2 linked regions of the Homo sapiens genome follow. The protein of the gene in region 1 interacts with the protein of each later gene in a pairwise test. Each region holds a gene or a part of one and is shown on either strand. Other genes may lie near its edges.

Region 1 (7,040 bases):
AATTGCTGGGAGAGCCTTTCTTTACCAGGCAACTGAGATTTGGATTCCCTAGTCTAGGGTAGGATGTGGGCATCTGCCTTATCCAAAAGCTCTAAAGGTGAACTTGGTGGCTAAGACTCTCTCACTTGGAGCAGTGCTGCTGTTAATTGCTCCCTTAATGACTCCAAGAAGTTCAGGGGAATACATTTAACAAGCCCAATCCTACTCCACTCTACTCTGATCACTCTTACCTCACCCTTAGCAGGGTCAGAGGAAAGCAAAAGAGGCTTGCATGGGTTCTAGCCTTTGCTCCTGTCAGGGAAAGTAGAAGACACCAGTGGGAAGGAGCAAGCTAGAGGGGAAGAGGTAAACTTGACCAGGGGGATTTCAGCTGTAACTGAAAGTCATTTCTGACCCTGCATCAGGCTCCTCTGCATGGGCATTTCCTGGGCATGTGCCTTTAACAACTCAATGTACACTAAAGAATACCTGACATTTGGTAACTCCTTGCTGTAAGAGGACAGAGGGTGGCTGAGAATAGTTACCATTTATTTAGCACTTACCTATGCTACCAATTATGCTTAAATGCTTCATCATCTCACTCCATCCTTGCACAATCCTCATAATCAAATAGGTGAACAGTAATATTCACCCACTATATGATAATATTAATTCATTATATTATATTAATATAATGAATAATAATTGTTATTATTTTGTTGCTGTTCTTATTCCCACTTTAAAGATGGTTCACTTTGGTGAAACCAAAACACAGAGTTCAAATGACTTGCTCCCAGCCTTCAGCAGGTAGGTAACAGAACCAGGATTCGAATCTGGGTCTGGATGGCTCCATATACCATGTTCTCAATCACAGTTCTCAAGGTTGGAAAAGTTGCCCAGAAGGCAAAGGATTCAAAAAGGGATCAAGAGCCGGGCACGCTGGCTCATGTTTGTAATCCCACCGTTTTGGGAGGCCCAGGCGGGTGGATCACTTGAGACCAGGAGTTTGAGACCAGCCTGGCCAACATGGCAAAACTCTGTCTCTACTAACAATACAAAAATTAGCTGAGTGTGATGGCACACGCCTGTAATTCCAGCTACTTGGGAAGCTGAGACACCAGAATCGCTTGAACCTGGGAGGCGGAGGTTGCAGTGAGCTGAGATCATGCCACTACACTCCAGCCTGGGTGAAAGAGAGACTTTGTCTCAAAAACAAAACAAACAAACAACAACAACAAAAAAAAGGTGGTGGGGTAGGGGAGGGACAGAGAATCAATAATGCAAAGAACAAACTTTGCCTACTTTCTGTTTTCCCCAACTTAAAACTGACAAATGAAAGTAGTTTGGCTAGGCACAGTGGCCTCCTCCAGAAATCCCAGCTATGTGAGGGGCTAAAGCAAGAGGATCACTTGAGTCCAGGAGTTCGAGGCTGCAGTGAGCTATGATTGTGCCACAGCATTCCAGCCTGGGCGACACAGTGAGACTTCATCTCTAAAATTAATCTTAAAATAAAATTAAGAAGTACTTTGCAAAACACATGTGGGGCTGTTTGCAGCCACTAGGTTATGGTTAATCAGGATATTGCTGAAGTCTCTCTTGGTGAAGGCTTTCTTTACTTAGCAATCAAACCTCTTAAATGGGTGTCACAACTTTTTTCTTGTGAGCAATTTTTAGAGTTAATGAAGGAGAATGTTTCTTAAACAAGGTTATACACACTCCCTGCAGTATACCATATTTGTAAATATATTTATTTTAGTTCTGAATATTACAATAACTTTAGGCTCTAACTAAATATGCATGTGTTGCACATTTGGTCTTCATGTATAACAATAAGTATGAGAGAGTTTAGAGATCTTACTGATTTGTACATGTGTTATTTTTCTATTTCTTCATTTCAAACATATTTCCTTTGCCTTTCCCTGCCTACTTTCAGGATGGATGATGGCCGGCTCTTAGACTACCTTATGAATCATGATGAACTGATGGAGGAAAAAGTAGCTTTCTATATCCGAGACATCATGGAGGCTCTGCAGTACCTTCACAACTGCAGGGTTGCACATTTGGACATAAAGGTAATAAGAAGTGGCAACCTGCTGGGCGCAGTGGCTCACGCCTGAAATCCCAGCACTTTGGGAGGCCAAGGTGGGCGGATCACAAGGTCAGGAGATCGAGACCATCCTGGCTGACACGGTGAAACCCCGTCTCTACTAAAAATACAAAAAATACAAAAAAATTAGCCAGGAGTGGTGGTGGGCACCTGTAGTCCCAGCAACTTGGAAGGCTGAGGCAGGAGAATGGCATGAACCTGGGAGGCGGAGCTTGCAGTGAGCCGAGATCGCGCCACTGCACTGTAGCCTGGGCGACAGAGCGAGACTCCCTTCAAAAAAAAGAAGTGGCAACCTTGCAGGGAATACCTTAAATGGCCAAGTCCAACTTACCAGTCATTACTCATAAGGAATATAAATTCAAATTCATTTTATTTACTTAGAGTAGAATATTATAACTTTTTTTTATTTGAGACAGAGTCTGACTCTGTTGCCGAGGCTGAAGTGCAGTGGTGCGATCTCGGCTCGCTGCAACCTCCGCCTCCCAGGTACCAGCGATTCTCCTGCCTTAGCCTCCCAAGTAGCTGGGATTACAGGCGCTCACCACCATGCCCAGCTAATTTTTGTATTTTTAGTAGAGACAGGGTTTCATCATGTTGGCCAGGCTGGTCTTGAACTCCTGACCTCAAGTGATCTGCCCGCCTTGGCCTCCCAAAGTGCTGGGATTACAGGCGTGAGCCAACACATCCATCCCATTATGACTATTTTTTTTTTTTTTTTTGAGATGGAGTCTCGCTCTGTCACCCAGGCTGGAGTACAGTGGCATGATCTCAGCTCACTGCAACCTCTACCTCCCAGGTTCAAGCAATTCTCTGCCTCAGCCTCTTGAGTAGCTGGGATTACAGGCGCCCACCACCATGCCTGGCTAATTTTTTTGTATTTTTAGTAGAGATGGGGTTTCAACATCTTGGCTAGGATGGTCTCGAACTCCTGACCTTGCGATCCACCCGCCTTGGCCACCCAAAGTGCTGGGATTATAGGTGTGAGCCACCGTGCCCGGCCTCCCCATTATGACTATTAAAGAGAATCTGGGCTGTCACACAATTTAAGTGTATCATCCATGAATTAATGAGAATATGCCAGAGCCACAATGACATCTGGTGTGAGAGAAGGTAGGGAAGTTCTACCTACCTAATCTAACTTCATAGAAGTAAGCCAACAAACGTCACCTTCTCTTCCATGCTTCTCAAAAAGAAGCCCCTGTTCACCAAAATGAGTAATTTATTATTTCCTTGATTCAATGCAGAAGCAGTGTAGTTAAGAAAACATGATTTTCAATGTCAAACAACTTCTCTGAATTACCACCCAAACTCAAAGTGTAGTAAGCTCAAAATGATAGTTTGAAGTATCCTATGCAGTTTCCGTAGTGCATAGGGAATTTTCTGTACACCATAGGCTTTATCAAAGAATAGCATAACTGTGTTTGAATTAATGAGGTATTTTGAGTAGTCAAAATAGAGGCCTAAACTTCCCTTCTTTTCTCCCTGCTTCCTTGGATCTCTGCAGCCTGAAAACCTGCTCATTGACCTACGGATTCCAGTGCCTCGAGTGAAGCTCATTGACTTGGAGGATGCTGTCCAGATCTCGGGTCACTTCCACATTCACCACCTGCTGGGGAACCCTGAGTTTGCTGCCCCAGAAGTCATTCAAGGCATCCCCGTCTCCCTGGGGACAGACATCTGGAGCATCGGGGTTCTGACATATGTCATGCTGAGTGGGGTCTCCCCCTTCTTGGATGAGAGCAAAGAGGAGACATGTATCAACGTATGCAGGGTGGATTTCAGCTTCCCCCATGAATACTTCTGTGGTGTGAGCAATGCTGCCAGAGATTTCATCAATGTGATCTTACAGGAAGATTTTCGGAGGCGGCCCACAGCAGCCACATGCTTGCAGCATCCATGGCTGCAGCCCCATAATGGCAGCTACTCTAAGATCCCCCTGGACACCTCCCGCCTAGCATGCTTCATAGAACGTCGCAAGCACCAGAATGATGTGCGGCCTATTCCCAATGTCAAGAGCTACATTGTCAACCGGGTGAACCAAGGGACGTAGCCATCTCCCAGCCCCTATGGTTTCACATAGACGTGCAGTGTGAACCAAAGCAAGACTGAATGTGACTGTAAATAATTCTGTTCATCATTTCACTCCGTGCAGTTCTCTGAATTGAGAGATGTACCTCTTAAACCTCGTCAGTGGTTATTCAGGGTCTGAGCAGCAGTAAAAGTCACCCTAAATCAAGGGGCTTTTCAGAAGGTCATTCTGAAGAAATAAAGAGGCAAAGGGTCACAGAAGTGTTCAGAAGAAGGGCAAAGATAAGAACAATATTAGCTGTTACGAAATTTTAACTGTATCTTCCAAAATGAGTGGTTAACTGGGCAAACCTTAAGCTCACAAGAGTATAAAAGATCTCTGGCTTTGCTGAAATTTTAAGCAAGAAGTTCTATTTAATGGAGATGTCATGTATATCAACTATTCTGGTTTAGATAACTTAGATATAGTTTCTTAATAGGATAGATACCCACATACAGTATAATATATCCCATTCAGGTTTCAGAGTTTTCTAATATAGAGATATATATATTAAATCAATCACAAGTAATTTTGAGTGCTCCAGTTAAGACAGTAATTTATTTACCGAATCATTACATTGTTTTGACTAAGCACAATTAGATGACAAGTTTTTTTAGAGCATTTTATAGATCTTGTATAGAAATCTTTTACCAGAACCTGTGCATTAAGAGAAAGCAATGTTGCCCTTTTGAATGAGAAAATTTTTTCTGTCAATCGCAGGTTATTTGATTAAGATAGGTTCTTTCTGTATATGAAACGCTCCCCGCAAATTCACTGGCAGCTCAGAATTATTCTGGAAAGAAAGCCTGCCAGGAAATAAATTCAAATACAGTATGAGCTGCGGGGATATTTTTGTGTCTACACCAGGTTTGAAATAAGTAAACAAATACAAGAGGTTCATATAAAAGGGCAAATGAAAACCTTTCCTACAGTTCCTATGAACAACGTACCAACACTTTCTGATTTCTTCTACAGCTGTAGAATACCATCTTTCAGAAAGTTGGCTGGCTTTATTTCTAACTCCTTATTGAAGCTAAGGGGTGCTTACTAAAAGGAGGCAGCCATATAGGCCTTTTAAAGGCCTGGTTCTAAGTCCTTTTTAAAGCCATGGAACAAAACCTGATACATCACCCTAACAGAGCATTAAGTTGTAACTGAGATTGCAATACCTGTCACCATGCAGCCGCTGATAGTTCTCTGAACTAAAAGGACTAATTGTACTTTGAGGCCAATGCTGCTTTCTGGTGTATATTCTCCATACAAGATTATTATTAACTGCTCTTTTTCCCTCTGGTGGAAAAAAAATTAAACCTGGGCATTTCATGGGTTTTCTTTCTTTATTTTTGTTCATTTGTTTTGGAGGGAGGGAGCTTGTTTTTTGTGTTTGTACATGATCCACCCTTAGTTTTCTAGAATGTGTGTTGAAAATTGCGATTATACAAGTAAGATTTTAAAAATGTAACTCAAGTGTTTGTTCAAATCAGGTTTAATGGTGTTGCTTCTCTCCTATAATGGGATAGAGAAAATTAAAATCACGTAGTACAGAAGTGCAAGAAGAGAATTTATGAAGGATGAATAGAACTACAAACCTATCTAAATGAAAAAGAAATGGTGGAAACTAAGCCTGAACTTTAACATATAAAAAACACTTATTCCCACAGAGAAAATGTAAAATTAAAAATCATCATCTTTTTTTTTCCATTGGTTTCAAAGACAACTTCCTCATTCGCCCTCCACCTCATCCCATCCAAGATTATAGATTGATAAATTAATGGAAAGTATAAGCAATAAGACTAGATAGCACTTAGTATTTTTGGGATTAACCAAATATATGGAAACCGACTCCGACTGTATTTGTTTCTTAATTTTCAAATGGCCCTGGGTCATAAAGCCTCACTCCCTCAGAGGTCTCTCGACTAACCCCTATAGTCTTCATTTGGACCTTTATGTATTTACAAACACTCTATGATACAATACATAAAAATTTAAAACATACATTAAACATGGTTACTAAAATTTTTCAAAATGTAAAACATATTTAGTAAAAAAATTTTAGTAAACATGTTTTCATTGTGTTTAAAAAATTTAAAACATATTTACTAAAAATCCTTTTAGTAAACAGTTTACTAAAACCCTTTCAATAAACATGTCTTCATTATGGTATACAGCATAAAAGAGGAAAGCCTGAGCCGGGCGCGGCGGCTCACGCCTGTGATCCCAGCACTTTGGGAGGCCGAGGCGGGTGGATCACAAGGTCAGCAGTTCGAGACCAGCCTGACTAACATGGTGAAACCCTGTCTCCACTAAAAATACAAAAAAATCATCTGGGCGTAGTGGCGGGCACTCGTAATCCCAGCGACTTGGGAGGCTGAGGCAGGAGAATCGCTTGAAACCGGAAGGCGGAGGTTGCCGTGAGCCGAGATTGCACCACTGCACTCTAGCCTGGGCAATAAGAGCAAAATTCTGTCTCGAAAAAAAAGGAAAGCCTGGCCCATAGGGTTTGTCATGGGACAAACTGTAGGCTCTGAGGATTCCCAATATCCATAAAGTCCAGCTTGGCAAGTTCTGTTCTGTCCACTGTGGATGACCTGAATCAAGATCCCCCTGCTGAGCCATTCTGAGTTTTTATAACAAGTTGAGTTTCTGCTTGAGAAGGCCAGGGCCCAGAACAATGGTGTGCAGACCACGGCAGGTGGGGGACAAGGAGGGTATTTTTGAAATTATGTTATGGGGGCAGTTGACAGAATGTTAGACAGACCCCAAGCTTTCATATCAGCTTTTACAACAGAGTTGGGAGGATCCAGATGTGGGGTTGCATGGAATTCCCCCAAGTACACATATTTGGGAAGTGAGAAGACAGGAAAGGAGGGACCTAGAAATGAAAAG
Region 2 (7,040 bases), on another chromosome or scaffold:
TTTTAATGTGTTATCCCACATTATTCATAAGAATCAGGAAACAATACATTTTTTGGCTGGCTTTTTGAGTTAAAAGTCAGTAATTTTGGAGTGAAAGGGAAGAAAGAGTTTTGTCGTGGGAGTCTCTTTGGAGTTTAGGTTTTCCATTTAGATGAGAAAAGTTTGTTACGTGATATGGATCCATGCAAGTTTGGAGAATGCTCTAGTAGACATTGGAAGCTCTTAGTTTCTATTATAATGAGAGTGAATAGACTGATTCATTTCTGTTGCCTTAGCATTGCCTTTCTACAAACTTAAACCGATTTCTAAACTTTAGCTATTGAACACACATGATCTTACATACCAAAGTGTTTTTAGCTTTACTGAGAGATATCAAATACGCTATAGCTGCAATAAAGGATATAAAAATCATTTTTTAGGCCATACGAGATGCAGAGCGTGTAAAGGAAATGAAACGAATGCATAAAGCTGTCCAGAAAGATCTGCCAAGACCATCAGAAGTAAGTGTTAGAATTTCTGGTTTAGGAAGTTTTAAGTTTCTTTTTATATGATTGCTGCGTTTTACATCATTCATAAAGACTATAAAACAAAATTTCATCTACTTTCTGGAATATAGCAAAGTAGTTCTCAAATCCAATCTTTAAAATGTTTCAGTAGTACCAGAAAGAATTTAGAAGGAAAAAAATGGAAATTGCTTTTGAAAATGTAAAACCGCTGTTTAATTCATGCTGTAACAGGTAATAACATTAATATATTATAGTGATATGTTTGGTAATTGTATTTGTTTTAAAATTTTAGGTAAATGAAACTATTCTAAGACCCTTAAATGTAGAACCGCCTTTAACAGATTTACAGAAAAGTGAAGAACTAATCAAAAAAGAAATGATCACAATGCTTCATTATGACCTTCTACATCACCCTTATGAACCATCTGGAAATAAAAAAGGCAAAACTGTAGGGTTTGGTACCAATAATTCAGAGCACATTACCTATCTGGAACATAATCCTTATGAAAAGTTCTCCAAAGAAGAGCTGAAAAAGGTATGATTGAGCTGGAATATTTCTTCTTGAGATTTAGGTAGTTGTTAGGTGCTGTGTATCATGGACAAATAATGAACTTATTTTTCCCTGTTGGTATTCATAAACAACTGAAATGTATGATTAGGAGATGCATGTTTAGATTAAGTGTTATGAAAAGGACATGCTTTAAATACCTCCATCCCCCGTGTTCAGTGTGATAGACCTTTAGCAAATAAACACCGCCAGGGTGTTTTTGGTTCATGGGTATTAATGGCTTCGTTGACAGTTGTTACAGTTGCCGTTTTCTGTATTCAGCTCTGCTATCTCTGAATAAAAATTAGATGCCTTTAGTACTTAAACATCACTTATTTAGAATAATATGAAGAGGTGAGAGAGACTAATATAAAAATGTTTATAGATTAAACCTTTTAGCTATTGAAAGGAAGGAAGTATTTTTTTTACTGAATATATTCCCCTCACATGATTTCCCCCTACTCTTTTGGATAAGGACATGAAGAAATGATTTCTTATATGAAGTCTGTATCTGGTCTTTTCTTCTACATGCATTTTATTCCTTCTGTTTTGACAGAGCAAACAACTGTGATTGTAAATAGAAATCTCCATAATTGTATAAGAAGATACAGTGGGTCTCATCGTTGGAAGCAGAGTGGTCATTAGCTTAAAAGTCTTTTTTTCTTTAGCCTTCAGCCCTGAGGAGCAGTGATAGACCTATGGATTTGGAATGAGCTGCTGTATACTTAGGATAAAACAAACAAGATTCTTACAAACTCTCCTGTCTTCTCTCCTGCATTCTTCCTCTTTCTTCGCTTTTCACAATTTCTTACTTTGTGTTTTCTTTATTGCATAAGTAATACATTATTTATTATAGGATTTTTAGAAAATAGAGAAAGGAAGGAGGGTTTCGATTTATATTTCAATAACTTGTCCCTGATTTCAGAATAACTGAGTCACTCATTTTTTAGTAAGTGCAGTAGGGAAACTAACATCTGTTGAGTTGCCTACTCTGTCGAGCACATTTAATCATTGAACTGGGATTGAGAATCAGGCTACGAAATTGATACTTGCACAGTTTCCTCTTTTGAAAGTGAAAATATGAGGGGAAGAGGAATTTAGGAAATAAATTTTCCTAAATTGTATGTATGGAAACCTAAAACAAGGATCACATTGTTGCTTTTGGAGATTCTGTAGAGGGTAAACCCTAACACAATTTTTGAAAAATAATAATTCTAAGTATTGGTTTGTAATTGTTTGAAACAAAGTAGCTTAAATATTCTCTCATATTTTATCTGTGTATATCTCTCTTTGTTCCAAAAAGAATTTGAAGCAGCTATTTAGTTAGCAGATTATTTATGGATAGTTTAAAGATAACTTAGCCATATTCTCTCGTAATGATTATAAGATCTGAACTTGTAAATTTTTACTCTGTGCAGTTTCAGAGTGAAATAGCATTTCTCTTTTAATAAACTGTCAGATTTTCTTTTTCTTTAATATACTTTAAGATATGTTAACATTGATTTGTTTCCATTATTTCCCTTAAGGTATTAAGTGTCCATTTTTTCTTCTATAGAGATGATTTTCCGTTTCTTTTGTTAAAATTTTTTGTTTATCAATCATTTCTCTTGATTTTGTAGATTTTGATGTGTTTATTTTCATTATTACTGGAAAGATTGAAAGCCTTCTGTAAGGCACAGAAGGTGGTTCCCAGTTTTTCATAAGCCATGAAGCAAAGGGCTGGGAAAAAATTCATATGCTTATGGAATTCTGTGTGTCTGGCATTGGGCTAGGCTCTATAGTATATTGTTCACTTAATCCTAATAACAAACACATCTGATCTAAGGTCAGCATCATCATTGCTTGGAAAGCTGTTTTTCAGCTTTCCAGGCTGAAAAAGCCCTGAGAAATGGGCTCAGATAAATTAAGCAAGCTCAAAGAGCTGCTTCAATGGTAAAGCTGTGATCTGAACCCAGGCCTGTCCAGCTTTCCCTCTCATTCTGTCATTTTACACTATTTTCTTTAGTAGTGAACTAAACTGGTTTATGATCTATCATCTAATTCGTGCCCCAGTCTCATTATCTGGCAATGTCAGGGCATTCCTTCAGGATGAGAAAAATGCCATGTGACAAAAAGATGCCTAGCTCCCCTTTACCATCACGTGAGGTCCTGCACACATGGTGGAGTGGGAGAGTGGAAGGGGCACACCCAGTGGTGCCATTTGTATTCTGCCTCATCTGCCTACTAACGATGTGGTCTTAACAAGTGGTTGAATCTCTATGAGCCTTAGTTTCATTAGCTTTTTTTTTTTTTTTTTTTTTTTTGAGACTGAGTCTCACTCTGTTGCACAGGCTGGGGTGCAGTGGCACGATCCCAGCTCACTGCAGCCTCCACCTCCTGGGTTCAAGGGATTCTTGTGCCTCAGCCTCCTGAGTAGCTAGGATTACAGGCATGTGCCACTACGTCCTACTAATTTTTACATTTTTAGTAGACACGAGGTTTTGCTGTGTTAACCAGGCTAGTCTTGAACTCCTGGCCTCGTTATCCGCCCACCTCAGCCTCCCGAAGTGCTGGGATCATAGGAGGGAGCCACCGTGCCTGGCCAAATTTCATTAGCTTTTAAATGAGGTTAATATTGGCTAATTTGTAAGGTGATTATGATCTTTGGATATAATGTAGGTAAAACTTTTAAACCTAGTTTCTCACACACACAATAGGTACCTGAGAAATGATAGCTGCTGTTATAGTGAGTGAAAGCAAAGGATGTTTATACTTTTGAGGAAACATGGATGCTTGATTTTTAAAAAGCAGTCTGCATTGACTCAAAGGCTTCTTAAGCTATTTTTCCTAGGTATTGTTATCCACCCTTCCAAAAAACAACCAACCACATCTTGGATTTGACTCAAGGCATGAGGGAAAAAATTAGTCTTCTAAAGCTCTCTGGATATGGCAAGTGTTTGTAGTACTTAAACTTATTGAAATTATTATTGTAAACAGGCCCAGGATGTTTTGGTGCAGGAGATGGAAGTGGTTAAACAAGGAATGAGCCATGGAGAGCTCTCAAGTGAAGCTTATAACCAGGTGTGGGAAGAATGCTACAGTCAAGTTTTATATCTTCCTGGGCAGAGCCGCTACACACGGGCCAATCTGGCTAGTAAAAAGGACAGAATTGAATCACTTGAAAAGAGGCTCGAGGTTGGTATCCTTTTAAAATTTTAATTTTAAATGTACTTTGATTGAGATAATGAACTAAATAATGCCACTGGAGACAATGTCAGAAAAACACACCTGAGGTGCTTATTGCCTTTTTAGTTGTTGGAGAAAACTACACTTAAGTGTTGGATCTTCTTGGCCTTGTTCATTGTTTTTTTTTGTTTGTTTTGTTTTTGTTTTTTTTTTAAAGAATTGTTGGCCTTCATGACTAAAGAGTGCCCTGCAAGTTGACCAGAGGTCAATCAGAACCTTTAGATGTGGGAGCAAGGAGCCAAGAAGCCAATACTAGTCACTCAGAACAGGCAGGTCATTGCTAGCATAGCCTGTTTTCTCTGAAGAGGAATCTCAGCAGTAACGAGGAGTTTTCTTTTTATAACAAAGAGAGTACATTTACAAAACTTAAATACAATTCTGTTCATCCTTGGATTACTGTGAGTTTGAGTTAGGGAGGGCAGAGCTGGATTATCTAGTTAGTGGCTTCCATGATTTTTCATGTCTGTGAAAATGTTGAAAACATACTAGATGCAGTTTCAGGACATGTGGTTTCTTAATATAGTTTGCATATTTTGAATTCCAGAATCTGTGTAGGCATTTTGCCAATGGCATGTAAATTGTGGTTCACAGACCACCAGGCTGCCTTGTGCATTCTTTTTTTTTTTTTTTGAGACCTAGTCTCAGTCTGTTGCCAGGCTGCAGTGCAGTGGTGCAATCTTGGCTCACTCCAACCTCTACCTCCTGGTTTCAAGCGATTCTCCTGCCTCAGCCTCCCTAGTAGCTGGGACTACAGGCACGCCCCACCACGCCCAGTTAATTTTTGTATTTTTAGTAGAGACAGAGTTTCACCATGTTGGCCAGGATGGTCTTGATCTCTTGACCTCGTGATCCACCCATCTCAGCCTCCCAAAGTGCTGGGATTACAGGCGTGAGCCACCATGCCCGGCTATGCCTTGTGCATTTTTAATGGTAATCTTTAGGGGCATTTCTAAGGCCAAGGTGGGATGGGAGAGAAGGGGTACTTCAGGCAGTCATATACAGAAAATCGTCTTGGTTTCCTCTTTTATGTGATTACCAGTTTCTCTTTACAAAAAGTGCATTTGAAAATATTTTTATTTAGGGTTAAAGCCAGAAGTAGTAAAATCACTTGGGGTGGTTGGGGCTGTATGGGGCTGAGGAAATGAGCAGGAAAAAGCAGTATCTTTTAATTTGAGTTATTCTGAGTTTTAATTTAACCATTAAGATCACATATATATAGGTAGCTGATGGTTAATGCCTGTGAACCTCTTTTTTTCTCAGTGAGAAATGACTGGTTCTGAAGTAATTCTCATCTTGGGTAAAATCTTAGTTCAGTGCTGCTAATTATTTGTATTACCAACTTCCAGCAGGGTGTGCTGTTGCTCTGTGTTGTGGTTCAGTGTTAAAGCCAGGGAAAATAGAACATCAGTGGTTAAATTGTAAGTTACATTTTTTTGTTGTGTAGGCTTCATTTCTTATAAATGGTAGTTAGCAGTGTAATTGTGATCTAATATCAGCATCATCACTGATTGAAAAGCTATTTGGAAAGCTTCTTTGTATTATTTATATATAAATACTTAGGTTTCTTACTTAGTATGAAAATCTTCTCATTTGAGGTGGGTAAACTCTTTTTGCCGCAAATGGCAAGAACATTTTGTGCTTTTTTAAATGGTAGAAAATTTTTTTCTCCCTAAATCTCATTTACTTTGTTGAGGTACTAACTTTCATGACAGCAAATAAATGTGTCACACAGTGAGTGGTGCCATAAAGTACAGTAATTTTTATTTCTGTGTTGAATTGGTCTTATGAATTTTAAAGGGAAAAATACAGAAAGAGCCACTCCTGTTCTTTTGGAGATTTATTTGGGTCGTTTATGAGCAACCATTAAAAACATGTGGTTCTCTTTGTTCAGTTCAGTACCAGGAACTGAAATCTTCCGTTGAACTATTTTTGTTGAAGGATTGGTGATTTTGGAGAATATTCATAAAGCAGTCTGAAGTCATTTTTCTTTTCTTGACTCTTGGATAACTTACTTTATTGTTTACCCAGCTAGTTACTTTTAAAGAATACTTAATCAAGTCCTTTAATTTGGTAAACTGTGCTTATTTCAAATGAAAGTTCATGAAATCTTTTAAAAAAAGAAAAGCAGCTCAAAGACTTGAATAAACAAACCCCCATTTTATTTGTATCCATCACTAATTCAGAACTAGGTTTCTTTTAGCTTGTTTTAGTTTTTGAAGACACAGTTCTATTGGTTTGAAATACATAAATATTTTATTTCAATTGTGGTAATTCTTTCATTTCAGTTGATTGCTAAATTATAAACATTATTCAAAGTTTGTTGTGGGGAAGGAACTCCAGTTATATTGTATAAACTAAATGCTATACTTAAATTATCCTTTCCACTCTTAGGTTCAGGAGATAAGCCCTTCTCTGTAAGCACTGTATGCCATGGCTGCCAGTGTGTTTGATTTTTGCTGCCATGAACTTTGGAACCGTGAATCTAAATTATGGCCCTATCACTGCCTATCAAGCAAGATGAAGTCCAGCTTTGTCGTGGCTGGTGTCTCCTGAATGGATTAAAAAAAAAAAATGCCCTGAGGTTTATATTGGAGGTAGTCTTTGAGCCATTCATTACTCATGATTAATATTTGAAACTTAGCACTTAAGTGAAAATCCTTAAGATACTCATTTAAAACTAATAGAACCATCTCAGATTTTATGTAGAATGTGGTAGAGGATGTGTGTGTGCAAGGAGTTTGTTAAATAAATAGAATCAGAAT

Evidence for each region. The genes of interacting proteins can lie anywhere in the genome.
Region 2: the proteins of KALRN (region 1) and CDC5L interact in a two-hybrid assay, tested with the Homo sapiens proteins (2 studies listed by BioGRID and IntAct).

What each region holds. Positions count from the first base shown.
Region 1 is NC_000003.12:124,715,335-124,722,374, forward strand, and holds part of KALRN (kalirin), read left to right. Parts: intron 1-1,912; coding exon 1,913-2,051; intron 2,052-3,590; coding exon 3,591-4,136; 3' UTR 4,137-7,040. UniProt on the Homo sapiens protein: Promotes the exchange of GDP by GTP. Activates specific Rho GTPase family members, thereby inducing various signaling mechanisms that regulate neuronal shape, growth, and plasticity, through their effects on the actin cytoskeleton.
Region 2 is NC_000006.12:44,425,684-44,432,723, forward strand, and holds part of CDC5L (cell division cycle 5-like protein), read left to right. Parts: intron 1-419; coding exon 420-500; intron 501-798; coding exon 799-1,041; intron 1,042-4,029; coding exon 4,030-4,227; intron 4,228-7,040.